Homo sapiens: one gene and its partner. The protein of the gene in region 2 interacts with the protein of the main gene of each other region in a biochemical or structural test. Each region holds a gene or a part of one and is shown on either strand. Other genes may lie near its edges.

Evidence for each region. The genes of interacting proteins can lie anywhere in the genome.
Region 1: the proteins of KLF10 (region 2) and KDM5B form a complex in vitro, tested with the Homo sapiens proteins (one study listed by BioGRID).

Annotation. Positions count from the first base shown.
Region 1 is NC_000001.11:202,796,908-202,806,165, forward strand, and holds part of KDM5B (lysine-specific demethylase 5B), read right to left. Parts: intron 1-9,258. UniProt on the Homo sapiens protein: Histone demethylase that demethylates 'Lys-4' of histone H3, thereby playing a central role in histone code. Does not demethylate histone H3 'Lys-9' or H3 'Lys-27'. Demethylates trimethylated, dimethylated and monomethylated H3 'Lys-4'.
Region 2 is NC_000008.11:102,648,284-102,654,983, forward strand, and holds the end of KLF10 (Krueppel-like factor 10), read right to left. Parts: intron 5,461-6,700; exon of another isoform or gene 5,190-5,460; coding exon of another isoform or gene 5,187-5,189; intron 4,115-5,186; coding exon 3,881-4,114; intron 3,779-3,880; coding exon 2,866-3,778; intron 2,109-2,865; coding exon 1,849-2,108; 3' UTR 501-1,848; downstream 1-500.

The DNA.
Region 1 (9,258 bases), on a different chromosome or scaffold from region 2:
CATCCCTGGATGCGGACTCTACCTGGTTGCTCAGAGGTGGATCTGTGCCAAGTCGGGCATCAGAGGGCTCTTTGCAGGCTTCCTCCCTTGGATCATCAAGTCTATCCCCTCCTATGCTATCACGATCACCACTTATGAGTTCAGCAAAAGTCTCTTAAAGAGACTCAATCAGGACCAGCATCTGGGCCATTCAAAGGGGCAAGGAGGCAAGGACCCCCATCTCTCCAACAGATGGGGAAAGAGGGGAGGAGGGACTGAACCCCTCAGCCCTGAGGGGAGGATCCTTGTTTCCATTCCCGCTGTGCAACAGCCCCAGGGGTCCAGGGGTAGGCTGCCCCTCTGGGCAGCCCAGGCCATCCTCAGACACAGCTTCCTCCTGCTGCTTCCATCCTGGGGATCATCCATTTCCTACCCTCCAAGTTCAAGACCAAATCTGCTATCTGCCCCTCCCCTATGTTTCCCTCTGTGCTTGCTGTAGCTGGGCCTGCCCCAAGGAGTCAAGATATCCTGGGACCTGGTCTAGTCTCCCTGCTCCTTTGTTAATTCCTTAAGTCTAAATATAATTAACTTCAATAAATAAATAAATAAAAGAATAAAATATGATGGTGGCTCTTGTCCTAAAATATTTTCTTAAAAGATCTAGGTAAACATTTTTCCTGCCACTTCTACTTTTCTCCCCACTTTACAAGTAGGATAATTGCAAAATTACTAGACTTCAACTATTGACCCCTCCTGTCAGACATGAATTGAGATTATTTAAATTATGTTAGTAAGTACAATATCCTTCTATTTGCGTGGCTTCCACAATGTCACAGTCATCCCATATTAGGGGAAATTTAAATCACTGTAAACCCTTCTTAATACAAATCTCACCAAACTAAACTCCTGCCTATATACATGCACTACATAAGACACACAAATGCACCTGCAAATTTTCTGAAATAATTTTTAACAGCTCTACCTTTTAAAACATGTTAATCTCACTAATCTGTTTAGGGACAGGCCGGGCATAGTGGCTTGTGCCTGTAATCCCAGCACTCTGGGAGGCCTAGGCAGGTGGACTGCTTGAGCTCAGGAGTTCAAGACCAGCCTAGGCAGCATGGTGAACCCCGTCTCTATTAAAATAAATACAAAAACTAGCTGGGCATGATGGTATGCACCTGTAGTCCCAGTCCCAGCTACTAGGGAGGCTGAGGTGGAAGGATGACTTGAGCCCAGAAGGCGGAGTTTGCAGTGAGCCAAGATCACATCATGCTGCACTCCAGCCTGGCAACATAGTGAGACCCTGTCTCAAAAAAAATAAAGATTCAGGGACAGAAAAGCTTTGTCTAAACCAATTGAAGGATTATAGTCTATATATTCTAGGGTTTTTTTTGTTCGATTGGTTTTTGTCTTTTTTTTTTTTTTTTGTACAGATAGGGTCTGCTATGTTGCCCAGGCTGGTTTCAAATTCCTGTGCTCAAGCAATCCTCCCACCTGCACCTCCCCAAGTGCTGGGATTACAGGTGTGAGCCACTATGCTGGCTATACTCTGGTTTTGATGATGGGTTTTTGCCTTTTTTTGGGGTTGCGGGGTGCGGTTTGCCTTTTCAAGTTTCACTTTTAAAACATCCCTTCATGGCCAGCCTGGCTAACATAGTGAGACACCATCTCTACAAAAAAATTTGAAAAATTAGCCAGGCATGGTGGTGTGTGCCTGTAATCTCAACTAAATGGGGGGCTGAGGTGGGATCATTTGAGCCCAGGAGTTCGAGGCTCCAAGGAGCTGTGATTGTGCCACTGCATTACAGTTTGGGCAACAAAACAAGAAAAAAAGAAAACAATCCCTTCACAGCCAGGTGCAGTGGCTCATGCCTGTAGTCCCAGCACTTTGGGAAGCTGAGGTGGGAGGATGGCTTAAGGCCAGGAGTTCGAACCAGCCTCGGCAACACAGCAAGACCCTGTCCCTAAAAAAAAATAATAATTCTGGGTGTGGTGGCATGTATACCTGTGGTCCCAGCTATTCAGGAGGCCGAGGTGAGAGGACGGCTTGAGCTCATGAGGTCAAGGCTGCAATGAACTATGATTGCACCACTGCACTCCAGCCTGGGCAACAGAGCAAGACTCTGTCCCCGGGGGACAAGGGGAAATCCCTTCACTATATGGGAAAATGAGGGATGTGTACTTGGCACTAACCCTTGTCTCACTAAATCTGTCCCCAGACTCTTCTTAGCAATGAGCAAATAAAGCTTTGGGATTTAAGCTCCTTGCAATCCATCAATTAATTAGTCTGGACAGCAGCCCTAGGTCAGTGTCAGATCCCCTTAGAGCAGATGACAAGCATACGTTGCAGAAAAATGACTTTGTCCAAGGTCATGATGTAACTAGATTGAAGACTCTACCCACCTATTTTTTAAAATCTAGAAAATACCCCTCCTGTCCTCTTTTACATAATAGAGGAACTGGCTTTTGAAAAGTAATTTTAACCCGGGCGCGGTGGCTCGCGCCTGTAATCCCAGCACTTTGGGAGGCCGAGGTGGGCGGGTCACCTGAGGTCGGGAGTTCGAGACCAGCCTGACCAAGATGGAGAAACCCCATCTCTACTAAAAATACAAAATTAGCCGGGTGTGGTGGCAGGTGCCTGTAATCCCAGCTACTAGGAAGGCTGAGGCAGGAGAATTACTTGAACCTGGGAGGCGGAAGTTGCGGTGAGCCGAGATCACGCCACTGCATGCACTCCAGCCTGGGTGACAAGCGTGAAACTCCATCTCAAAAAAAAAAAAAGTAATTTTTAAAAAAGAAAAAAACGTGATAAATAAAAATATACATACACACAGTCCCCTTGATAAACCTCTTTTTTATCCCTGCAAAATAATAGTTAAATTTCACAGCATTTTACAAGAGATTACCATGTGAAATGAAATCAACAAGTTCTAAAAGGTCATTATGTGACCACCTGCCTGGTGGCATCTCCTATCTCAGAAATGAAGTTATTATTTCAAGGAAGCAGGGAGAAGTCTTTAGATTTTAAGGGACATTAATAGAAAATATTTTCCAATGACCTAATTTTTAAATTGAACCTAACAATCTAACAAGTAATTCATCAGACTCTTCAAATTCTCATTTCCCTAAAACTTCTTTTCCAGAAAGGGACTTTTGTTTTGTTTTTGTTTTTTGAGACGGAGTCTTGCTCTGTCACCAGGCTGGAGTGCAGTGGTGCGATATCGGCTCACTGCAATCTCCACCTCCCAGGTTCAAGTGATTCTCATGCCTCAGCCTCCCGAGTAGCTTGGGACTACAGGTGCGTACCACCACGCCCAGCTAATTTTGTACTTTTGGTAGAGACAGGGTTTCACCATGTTGGCCAGGATGGTCTCAATCTCTTGACCTCATGATCCACCTGCCTCGGCCTCCCAAAGTGCTGAGATTACAGGTGTGAGCCACCGCACCCAGCCATTTTGTTTTGTTTGTTTTTGAAACGTCTTGCTCTGTTGCCCAGGCTGGAGTGCAGTGGCGTGATCAGGGCTCACCGCAACCTGGAACTTCTGAGCTCAAGCCATCCTCCCACCTTGGCCTCCCGAGCAGCTGGGACTACAGGTGCACGTCACCATTCCCAGCTAATTTTTTGTCTTTTGTAGAGATAGGGTCTCACTATGTTTCCCAGGCTGATCTCAAACGCCTGACCTCAAGCGATCCTCCTGCCTGGAGCCTCCCAAAGTGCTGGAATTACAGGTGAGAGCCACCATGCCTGGCTAGAACATCATTCTGTTTCTTGGTTACTACTGATGTCAGCTCTGTTTTGTCAGGCTAAATACCCACTCTGACCAGAAGGCCCCTTCCTAAGAAAAGAAAGTTCAGATAAAGTCTGGCCAATACAAAAATGAACAGATAAAGAAATGAAGTGATGTTAGCAGAGACTAACCTCCACCCACCAACCGACTCCAACACCTCCATGTGCCAACAGACCTGCAGCTGGTCAAGTTACTTGACATGTCCCAACAAATGTGTAACAAAGCAACAAAGCCATTGACTAAAACTGAGAAATACTATCCCCAACCTAATTGGGCAAAATGACCATCACTGACTGAAGGCTAGAAAGCTCACCTCATAATTGCCCAAATGTCACTTATAACCTGAATAGGACAAAAGCTAAGCTAAGCTGTTCTTTACAAATGAAGATCCCTAGTTTTGTCTCAACTCCAATGCTGCTACTCCACTTTCTGCTCTTCTATCCAGGAAAATAGCTAAAGTAACTATTCTTTACACTTTTGTGTATGCTTCACATTTTTTGTAATAAAATTTTTTAATTTACTCCCTGAAGTGACGGGTCTGGCAGAACAAAATGATTAGTTTTTATATCCGAAAGAAAGCTTAAATGCTTAAAAAAAAAAAGCAGCAGCAGCACATATGGGATGACTCTAAGGCCATGTGTAAAGATATATGCTGATGGTGCTTTAAGAAGGATGGTCTACAGTTAAAGGACTGAGTGTCTTAAATCATGGTGGGGGGTAGAGGACTTAAAAGAATGCATTCCAGTCAAATTCTGCATCTTTGTTCCAAACATCCTACAATTATGGAACTGAAATGCCTCACTGTCCTAGAGACATCTTTTCTTCATTAATCTGGTTCATAAACTTGGTTGTAAAAAGCAAATTCAAAGAATTCATCTAATAATGACAGAAAAAGAAACATTTCTGAATGAATTTGTGGAAGTGTACAATTTAATTTTTCATTTAATTTTTATTTACAATTTTCATTTAATTTTCATATTAATTTTTCCTCTTTAATCCCATGCAAGGACACAGCAGTTAATAAATACTTAAGAAATACTTCTCAATTGCATACCATTCTTATGTCTAAAACAAGTTTCTCACAATCTGGATTTTATAAATCCAGTTATTAGTATCTCAAACTTTAAATAATCAAAAGTCAATGGCAGCAGCCTAAGAATATGGCTTTCCCAAGGTATCAACTCACCCACCCACTCACCCCAAAGAGACTTGTCGGTACGCCCTCTGGTGAGTCCCCTTCAAGAGACCCAAACTTAAATTTGAGAATGTGTAGCCCTCCAGTTCCCAACCTTCATTCCATCTTTTTTTTTTTTTGAGGCTGCCAATGATCTGTACTATAACAGGTATATTAGAAAATACCAAATTCTCTTAGAGAAAAAAAAATTGCACAACAATCTCAACACTGAGAGGACTGTCCAAGGATGAAAGCAAGGTACTCCTAGGTTAGTAGTTTTTCAAACCTATAGATGGCATTTGGAAAGAAGTACACGCATAGGCTTCAAAAAACCCTGAACACCAGAAACCTAATTAGCACTTTCATTTTAGGGGCACGGGCTTTCCCTTATCCTTTTCTACAGCCAACCTTAATGGGGTCCAATTAAGGCAACAATGAAAGGTTACAAAAGTCTACAAAAAGGTCCCATTACAGCATTTAAACAGGGTTCATTTTTTTTAATCAAATAGTTTACACTGTTTTTTTGTTGTTGTTGTTTGTTGTTGTTGTTGTTGTGTTTGTTTTCTTTTTTGAGCCTGTTGCCCAGGCTAGAGTGCAATGGAGTGATCTCGGCTCACTGCAACCTCTGCCTCCTGGGTTCAAGCAATTCTCCTGCCTCAGCCTCCCGAGTAGCTGGGATTGCAGGCGCCTGCCACCATGCCCAGCTAATTTTTATATTTTTAGTAGAGACAGGGTTTCGCTATGTTGGCCAGGCTGGTCTTGAACTCCTGACCTCAAGCGATCCGCCCACTTAGGCCTCCCAAAAGTGCTGGGATTACAGGCACGAGCCACTATGCCCAGCCCTGTATTTTTTTACCCAAGAGAAAATTCCCCCACTGGCAGATTTCTACCCACTTATAAATGTAAACCAGTAAACACATTTTTCACTAATCTATCAACCTGAAATACTCTAATACTCTAAGTCTAGGCCAACAGGTCATAAAGAAAATTACCCTAGAAACAGAGAAAGAATAAAATTAAGGTTTAATAATTTTCTCTTAATTTTTCTTATCAGTGTCTCAACAAAATAATTCAGGCCAGGTGCACTGGCCCATGCCTGTAATCCCAGCACTTTGGGAGGCCAAAGCGGGAGAACTGCTTGAAGCCAGGAGTTCAAGACCAGCCTGGGCAACATACTGAGAAACCGCATCCCTACAATTTATTAGAGGCTGAGGAGGGAGGAGCACTTGAGCCCAAGAAGTGGAAGCTGCAGGGAGCCTTGATTGCAACACTGCATGCCAGCCTGGATGACAGAGTGAGATTAAAAAAAAAAGGAAATTTCAGGCCCTGGCTTTTAATAGAGAATGTTTATTAATGTTTTTCAAAGGTAATTCTCTACTCATTTCGCTCTTTTAAAAGTTTAGATTGCATGTTTAAAACCATACCCTATAACCATAGGAAGGGAAGGAAATTTTTCCAGTGGGGGTGGGGACTCAAATCTTTAGCTGACTCATATTTGCAATATCATTCACATTACATTCTTAAAGTCTACACGTTTTGTTTATTAGTTCACTAAGAATTACAACTGGGTAGATATGTTTGTGGCTACTAATGTGCCCAATTTACCACTGGCAAAGTCAAATTTAGCTAAACACCCATTCAATAACTACAACAAATGAAGTTTGTTTTAGCTTTAAGGTAGACATTTGTGGCCTAGGTGCGGTGGCTCACGTCTGTAATCCCAGCACTTTGGGAGGCCGAGGTGGGTGGATCACCTGAGGTCAGGAGTTCAAGACCAGCCTAACCAACATGGTGAAACCTCGTCTCTACTAAAAATACAAAGTTAGCCGGGCGTGGCGGTGCATGCCCACCCAGCTACTCAGGAGGCTGAGGCAGGAGAATCGCTTGAACCCGGGAGGCGGATGTTGCAGTGAGCAACATGACGTTGCGCCATGGCACTCCAGCCTGGGCAACAACAGCAAAACTCCATCTCAAAAAAAAAAGGTAGACATTTGTGGCCTAGAACTGTAGGACTTAATCCAACCTCCTACCAGGTTTTTCTCCTGGGCATTATAGTCCTAAATTTGTCTTAAAAGGTAGTTAGGGGTCGGGGGAGGGGGGAGGGAAAGCATTAGGAGATATACCTAATGTAAATGATGAGTTAATGGGTGCAGCACACCAACATGGCACATGTGTACATATGTAACAAACCTGCACGTTGTACACATGTACCCTAGAACTTAAAGTATAATTTAAAAAAAGGAAAAAAAAAGTAGTTACAAGTGAGTTCAGGGTTTCTTTTGAGGGAGATGAAAATGTTCTACAATTGATTGTGGTGATGGTTGTACAACTCTGAAAATATCAAAAACCACTGAATTACACATCATAAATTCGTGAATTGTATGGTATATTTCAATAAAAGGGTTTTTTTTTTAAGTAGTTATAAGTTCTTCCTTTGCTCAAGGATGTTTCTACTGATAAGCCTCTTCTCTAAACGTTAAAGGCTTAAAGTGGCCAAAGATACAAGTAGGGAAAGATTTCATGACACCAAAGAAATAGGGAAAACAGAGAGAGGGTTAGGCCTAAGTCGATCAAACCCCAAATTAGGGAGAATGATACGCTGGAAAGGGAGTAAATGAGCTCCATATCATTAACACTTCTACCATACAAAGAAGTGTATAAGTTCCTCCCTCTTCTCTAGGAGTGGAACCAACAGGCTCACTCAAAAATGGTGACTGTATTAAAACATTTAAGGGCAGTTTTACACTTGGCTATAAAGATGAAGGAATCAAACTAGTAACCACAAGAAGTTAAAGCTGAAAAATTTTTGTCTCTTGTGGCCTCTGGGGTTTGATTTAAACCTTCTCCGGACACAAAGAAGAAATCTGTGGAATCTAGGCCCGGCACGGTGGCTCACGCCTGTAATCCCAGCACTTTGGGAGGCCGAGGCGCATGGATCACCTGAGGTCGGGAGGCAGAGGTTGTGATGAGCCACTGCACTCCAGGCCTGGGCAACAAGAGCAAAATTCCGTCTCAAAAAAAAAAAAAAAAAGAAATTTGTGGAATCTATCTATGGCCAAATGTGAGACATTTGAAAGCAAGAAAATAAGTTACTAAAGCCATAAATATATTCCTATCAAAATTTGGGAGACAAAAAAGTATTTACTGAGCAGCCAACTATTTTTCTGCCTAATAGTTACACCCTTAAAATTACTCATCTCCAAATACCACAAAGTGATATGGAAAAATATCATTTGTCCTTAAACAGACATCTAAGTACAGTATCATGGAGGAAATTAAAAATTTGCATTTTAAAGGTGACAAAACCAGAAGCCAGATGAATTGTAAATTTAAGAAGGTTTTGGTCCAGAAAACAAGCCTGGTTATCCTACATAGTTGATATAATTTGAAACAAAGGTTTGTATTAAACTTCAAACTCAGATTTGAAGTATAGTCTTCTTGACTTAATCACGTTTTCTCACATTTATCTTACTATATTTTCAAATTTCTGAGAACCCCTAAGCTGCCATATACAAAATAATGTAAGTACTCTAAGTTTTCAGAAGCCAAGCAGTTTGGGAGTCTCACTGAGAAAGCAGCTATAAACTGAAACTATATTAAGTACCATTGGTAAAGATACAAAGGTAAGAACAAAAGGAGACAGAAATGTTTTATACTTCTCCTTACCTTCTAACAAGTAAAATACCAATAGTTCCAATTCCCCTTCTAATATAACCATTTGTGTTCCAAAAACTCGGTGAACAAAAATCATCCAGAAATACAGACATTATATATATCACCATGGAAAATATTTCACACTTCTTGAAGGGTTTTTTTGTTGCTATATATCAACTATATGAAACCACTTGTTCACAGTTAGCTTTCCCAAAAACAAAACAGTTTCTAAAACAAAGACTGTTTACATCTCTTAAGAAGCCTTTGTTCCAACAAGACCCCTCTTCAAGAGCTACAACTTCTGGAAAGATTTCCCTTTTTGTGGTTATATCAACAACAAATACTCTCAAACTCTTTCCATTTGGCAAAGGAGTTTGTTAAACAAAGGAGGAAGCAAGTCCCCTCCACACAAAGGAGGTCTCCAAACAGAGTACTGGTTGTATTTGTAGATTATTGGTGCCTCTTTAACCCCTTTCCTCAGGCTGTACTATGTAGCACTCTCAATACAAAATGGTGGCCATCATGTCTGTCTGACATTCAGAGTGAGAAAAAGGCAATTCGATCACACATTTTGCAAAGATTACCATTAATATTCTAGCCAAGATGAGGAAATGGGTAGCCAAGCCTAACCAGAGCAACACTATCTTTTCAGAAAAAGGG
Region 2 (6,700 bases):
TTGGGAGGCCAAGATGGGCGGATCACTTGAGGTCAGGAGTTTGAGACCAGCCTGACCAACACGGCGAAACCCCGTCTCTACTAATATAAAAATTAGCCGGGCATGGTGGTGCACACCTGTAATCCCAGCTACTCTGGAGGCTGAGGTAGGAGAATCACTTGAATCTGGGAGGTGGAGGTTGTAGTGAGCTGAGATCATGCCACTGCACTCCAGCCTGGGTGACAGAGTGAAACTGTGTCTTGAAAAATAAAAAACAATGTTTAAAAATTAAATGTGTTTTCTTAGAACTGGCTGGTTCACATATTACCTCACCAAATAGATATTTGGCCTCACTTTGTATACTCTCTAAATGGATTCATGTTAAAGACATACTCCTACAGTTCTAAATTTGAATGAGACCCTTAGAGAAATTCAGACACTAAGTCCTTGGATAATATAAGTGATCAATGTCAAGGTGAGAGTTGAGAATGGTTTTTAAGAAATGCAATGACCATTCCATATACCAAAGGGAATTCTTTATTGTAAACAAGATATAAAGTACAACAAAAGAAATATTGTGCAAATTGTAAGTCACAAGGATTTTTTTTAATTAAAACTTTTGTTTTCCAAGGGTCCAAGTTTTGATGTCAGAAATCTACACCCAATATACAAAAACAATGTTAAATGGGAAGATATAGTGACATTTTTCACTATATATTTTAAGCAATGTACTTTTGTTTTGCCACTGTGTATATCATCCACTATATAACAGAATAAAAGAGAAATACTGTTAACAAAAGTGAATGTTCTAATAATTTTTCTACCCAACTACCTCCACATCCCCAAAAAACGCCTATAAATTAACAGGACAACATCAACATTTGTCCACCTGTGAATAATGGTCACTAATTTTCTAATTCAATAAAGCACACATTATATCCTCATAACATAAAGGTACTTTACTGATGACATAAGCCATCTTTTTCAAGAAGTTATCTAAGATTCTTAATATCCCTTCTTTACAATATATATTTCATCTTCAGTTTTTTTTCTAAACAAAGTGCAGTGTATCTTAGAGTCTACAGAAAACACATTGGTATACAATTTTCAAATCTACACAAGAAACTGCAGGCAAACTAAAGTTCAAAGCATAATGAAATGCCTAGATACAGTCATTTGTTAAACTTTCAAAACAAAAATGCAAAAACAAATTGTAGCTATGCTTCAAAGCAATTAAATTAAGGAGGATTCCAATTCTTTGGGCCCTCTTAGCAATATACAGTCGTTCAATTCCAAATATTCACAATAGTGTAAAAATGATAGTTCTAGATATATTTAATCACTACATCCACGATGTTGACTGGAAAGACTAGGAATAATAAAGAAGATAACTCTAGAAAAAGATGACAATATTTGTAATAATACAAACTCATTTTACATCTCCATGTCTGTACCGTAATGTTTATTTCCTTCCAGCCTCCATATTCTTGAAACCAGTGCTTTAGAAGAATCACATTGAAAAGTTGGTCTCAAGTATAAACAGCAAAAGTAAAGTAACAAATATGCACACAGATTCAAAATCTGTGCTACCTGTGTTGACCTCATCTGAAACCTTCAAAAAATATTCAAAGGAATAAAAGCTTTCTCATCTCTCTTATGTGATAAGAAATGAAACCTGCCTTTCTGTGACCTGCCTGTGGCCGAAGCCCTTTTAGTCACCTAACCCAGGCGGGGCCTTCGTGCCAGGCTGTGGGGCTTCTGCTTTAAGCCCACGTTGTGGGGCCACAGACTTGCAGTGGAAGCATTTTTACATCACCACTGGCTCCCGCTGAGACCAAAGTTAGTTCTGACTCTTCACTTTCCGGTCTGTCACTGTGTGGGAGCAGGGGTTGGAGGTAGAGCAATGTCATTTAGCTTGCTCACTTCCATCTGCCAGTTTGGTAGCTTCTTGGCTGATAGATGGCGCCGGGCATGCTTGGTCAAATGGTCACTCCTCATGAACCGCCGGTCACACATGGGGCACGCAAATTTCTTCTCACCCGTGTGGGTTCGCCTGTGTCTGGACAGTTCATCAGAACGGGCAAACCTCCTTTCACAACCTTTCCAGCTACAGCTGAAAGGCTTTTCTCCTAAAACAAAGACATACAAATCATTATTATGCATAAGATTGCCGTAAATTATATGTTCAATTCTGTCTAAAAGTATATGAGAAGATACATTTTAAATAATAAAAGCTAATAAATCAAACTGTCAAATGAATATGAGATATGTATTGCTCCAATTTCAACTTGTCACTTGATCACATTTACAAAACTCTTCCCCACATGAAATAAGGCAGCCGGGTGGAGTAGTAGGCACCTGTAGTCCCAACTACTCAGAAGGCTGGGGCAGGAGGATAGCTTGAGCCCAGAAGTTTGAGACCAGTTTGGGCAACAGAGCAGTTTTTTTTCATCCCTTAAAAAAAGCCAAAAATGAAAAGACTTCCTGACTTTAACTATGATTCAAAGGCTTTAAAGATACCTTATTAAAGTAACTACTCAGACATCTACAGAATCATCATTTGAGAGACTGAAACAAAAGCACATCAATAAAGTATTTACATACTTATTTTTAAATTATTTGTAGAGATGAGGTCTCAGTATGTTGCACAGGCTGGTTTTGAACTCCTATGCTCAAACAATCCTCCCACCTTGGTCTCCTAAAGTGCAAGGATTATGGCACTCGTGAGCGGCCTCCAATACAGCCTTTTGGAGGACCTTGCACTGGTAAATACCATCCTCTAAACTAGCTAAAGGCAAGTTATTCCTTATCATCCTGGGTTTAAATGTGTGATCACAGCCAAAATCTCTTCATTTAAACACTAAAGATATAAGAAGTGGCTGGTACCTGTGTGCGTCCTCGTGTGGGCCTTCAGATGGGAACTTTTAAAGTATGTCTTGCCACATCCTGGGTGGCTACAGATGTGACTCCTTATCCTTGATGAATCAATCTGAGGAGTGACTTTTGCTGCTGAAGGGGAAAACCCAGGAGCAGGGGCAATGGGAGAGAGTCTGGTGCCATTCGGGCTCACCACCGGAGGCTTTGAACTCTGCACAACGGGCTGGGGTACCACAAACATGACAGCGCCTTTGGGGACTTGTGTGCCCATGAACACAACAGGGGGGCAAACGGCTGGTGGCTGGCTGGGAGGAGTGCTGGGAACGACTGTTGTCACAACAGGGTTGTTGGCAGGAAGGGGAACCATCTGGCAGATGACCGGCATAGGTGGCACTCCCCCTGCAGATACTGCAGGTGGAGAGACCAACACTGACTTCTGTTGTGGGGACACAGGGGCTGGCTGAGACCTGCAGATGACCGTCTCTGAGGAAGGCACAGAAAAGTCATAAAGTGCAGCACTTGCTTTCTCATCAACATCTGCCACTGTGTTTCTCTCACATTTGGATCTGTTTGGTGACACAGCGGCACATGGTATGTTCTTTCTTGCAGCCTCAACATTTAGGTGGGTTCTTCTTCTAAAAGAATTGTTCTGATAGTTGAGGATGCTGGCTGCTTTCATTGGGCAGGTCTGGTGGTTACATAGCTGGGCATCAGCTGTATGACGAATCACACTTGTTGCCTGAGCTTTGGGGAGTTTGGGGGCAGATACTGGGCTCTTTTCTTCCTCTTTGAAAGGTGCGGCAATGTGAGGTTTGGCAGTATCTGAGAGTGACTTGAAGTGTACAGTAGATGGCGCTGGTGCCATCAGATTTGACACTTGAGAGGGTTCAAAGTCAGAAGGACTGTAAGGTGGAGTCAAACACTAAAGAAAAGGGAAATACATAGCATGAGAAATCTACAGTTTATTATATAAATTTTAAGAAATTATATAATTTACGTCTATCTTAAAAACAATAATACTTACAAATGCTGGGATTGTATGAAAATCAGGTGTTCCCGGAAGCAGATTCTCTTCCTCTGACAAATCAGATACTGGTGTAACAGGTCTGTTTTCAACGTATTTCTTAAAATCAGACTTCCAACTGCAGCTCATTGACATAAGTGCTTCTACAGCTTCAAAATCACTTTTCTCTGCAGTTTTGTTCCAGGAATACATACTCTCTTTTGGCCTTTCAGAAATCATTTCCATTCTTTCCTCCTATAAAAACAAAAGAGGAAAGCTTATAAGCATATTTTTTGTCATCCAAATGACACACAGAAAAATGAGCAAATTTTTTTTTTTTTTTTTTTTACAACTCACACAACTTTCCAAATTAAAATCAGAAATAATTTTCCTCTCACACTTACTATGATACTAAGGAAGTTCAGCTACACTTGTTAGGTAGGTAACCCAAACCTCACAGTAGTGGCAATAAAATCTTCCTCATTTTTTCTGTTAACATTTAGACTTTAACACTGATAAAGCGATATCCGTTCATGGGAGAGAGGCACACCTACTACCATTAAGGGGACTAAGACGAAAATTATCAATGCATTTGTGATCCAAAAGGAGAAGTATTTGGCTAAGAAGAAAAGGAGTATTTTATATAGACTTTCCAGAGTAGCTACCTGCAACTGGAGTCGGGCAAAAAAACTAAGAGTGCGGCAAAAAATTTATCTTCTTAAATATTACAGGTATGGTATGAGGTCTTTTGAGGTACAAATTGCTGATAGAAAAAAAAAATAGCCAAAACCTTCTAATAAAGACAAAATGTAGTAGAGCTCTGGCCTGTTGTTATGGGTCTGACCTTTGGAAAGTCACTTTGCACTTTGGGATAAAAATCAAAAGATAAGGGATCCTCAGGGTATCTTTCAAGTTAAAATTGCATTATTTAAGATCTAAAATTTGATCACTTGATTATGGTAAAGAAAAATCAAGTGATATACATAGAAAAAAATTCTAATGTTTATTTTAATTAACTTTCAACCTCTTCATATTTGTGCTCCCTTTTACTGAATCTATTTGACACAATGGTTTGCCATACATAACTACAACATAGCTAATGCAATATTACTAAAAACTGGATAATCAAAAAATTTAATATTCTACTTGGAATTTGCAAAAACCGACTTTAAAAAGTCAGCATAATCAAAGTAGAATCTATTTTAATTCCTTAAAGAACTGCTTGATGACAAAATAACAGCACAGGTTTTGCACTTATTTGTAGAACTACCTAATGTTTTATAGTAAAGTTCTTTGAACTACGCTAAAAAAAAATGGTACTACTCACCATTTCTCCTATTTTCCATTAAAAGAAAACTGTCCAGACTCGTTTGGTCAAAGTAGAGATTGTGTAAAAATACCAAAAAACATTCTTTACGTTGCAAGGTATTATTCTCAATACTAGTTTTTCAAAAATGCATGATGCCTTCGTGTTGAAATCCTAAGAAAACGAGCCATTGCTCTTGAAATATCGCTAACAATATAATTGCATAATCGCGCCCGCCTTTATGTAAGCTGCAATGGACAGCGCGCGTGTGTGTAACAGCCCCAAGACGCCAATGCAAAAAAAGGAAAAAAGAAAGGCAGGCGGCAGGGAAAGAGAGCGTGAGCTGGGAAGGACAGGAAGGGAAACAGGGAGGGGAGGAAAGGGAGTGGGGCGCGAGGCAGGAAAGGGAAGCGCGGGCGGAGGCGCGGGCGGGGGAGGCAGACGAGGGGCGGGGGCGGACGGCGGGGGAGATCCTAGCTGGCGGAGACCGACGGATGGGGCCGCCCTAACCTCAATGAGGCTCACGGGTGAGTCACTGGGAACATTCCTCGCCGCTCGCACGTCCCCGCGCCCCTGCCCCCGCCATTGGCCGGCCGGCTCGGCGGCCCGAGCCCGGATTGGCTGTGCGGCCCGGGGCGGGGGCGTGGGCGAGGAGGGGGCGAGGCATGTGAACAAAGCGTGATCAGCGGCTGCTCCGGGAGGCGCAGGAAACGTGAACTGGGAATTGCCGCGCCGTCACCTTTCCCCTACTTCCTGAGCTTGCGGGCCCCCGCCCGCGCCCGACCCGGGGGAGGGGCCGCGGGCGCCGCCGCCAACCGCCCGGCCGTGCGCGCCGGGCCCGCGGGGAGGGGCGGGGCTGCGGGCGCCAGGCTCCGGGAGGCGCCCGCCCCTTCCAGCTCCCCGCGAGCCGCCGTTCCCTTAGGAACCGACAGCGGGGCCGGGCCTCGCTCCCGCCCCTGGCGGAGGCCGGGGCTGGGTCACTCGGGGACGAGAAGCTCCCCGGGCGCACCCGCTCCCGGCCCACCCCCGGCCTCCGCCTCAGATGCGGGAGGAGGAGCCAGGTCCCCGCGGAAACCCGGCCGCCGCCCTCCTCCCGCCGGCAGCCCCCGGGAACCCGGCCGAGCCCTCGGCACTTCCCGCCCACGCGGCCCACGGGACCTCAGACCACCCCGTCTCTCCCTGTAGACGCGGCGCCCCCTCCCCGTGGCTTCCGGCAGCTCCAGGCCCCTCCCGCCGCGCGTCTCCACGGGTTCCCAGACGTGCAGCCCCCACAGGCCCCGGCTCCAGACGCGCGGCCCCCGCGTCTCGCGGCCCAGCTCCCCCCGCCCACCTTCCCGCCCCAGCTGCTGGGTCCCGCTTCCCACCCTCCTGCCCCAGAGGCGGCTCCCCGCCTCTTCCAAGGAGTCGTCAGAAGGCGGCCACCTGCCCCTGGGGTAAGAGTCCCCCTCCAGACGTCTGGGGGAGCAACTCGTCCCCCAGGGCTGTCGGCGGGCCCTCGTGTCATCCCCCCGCTCCGACGACAGGCGCCCCTTCCC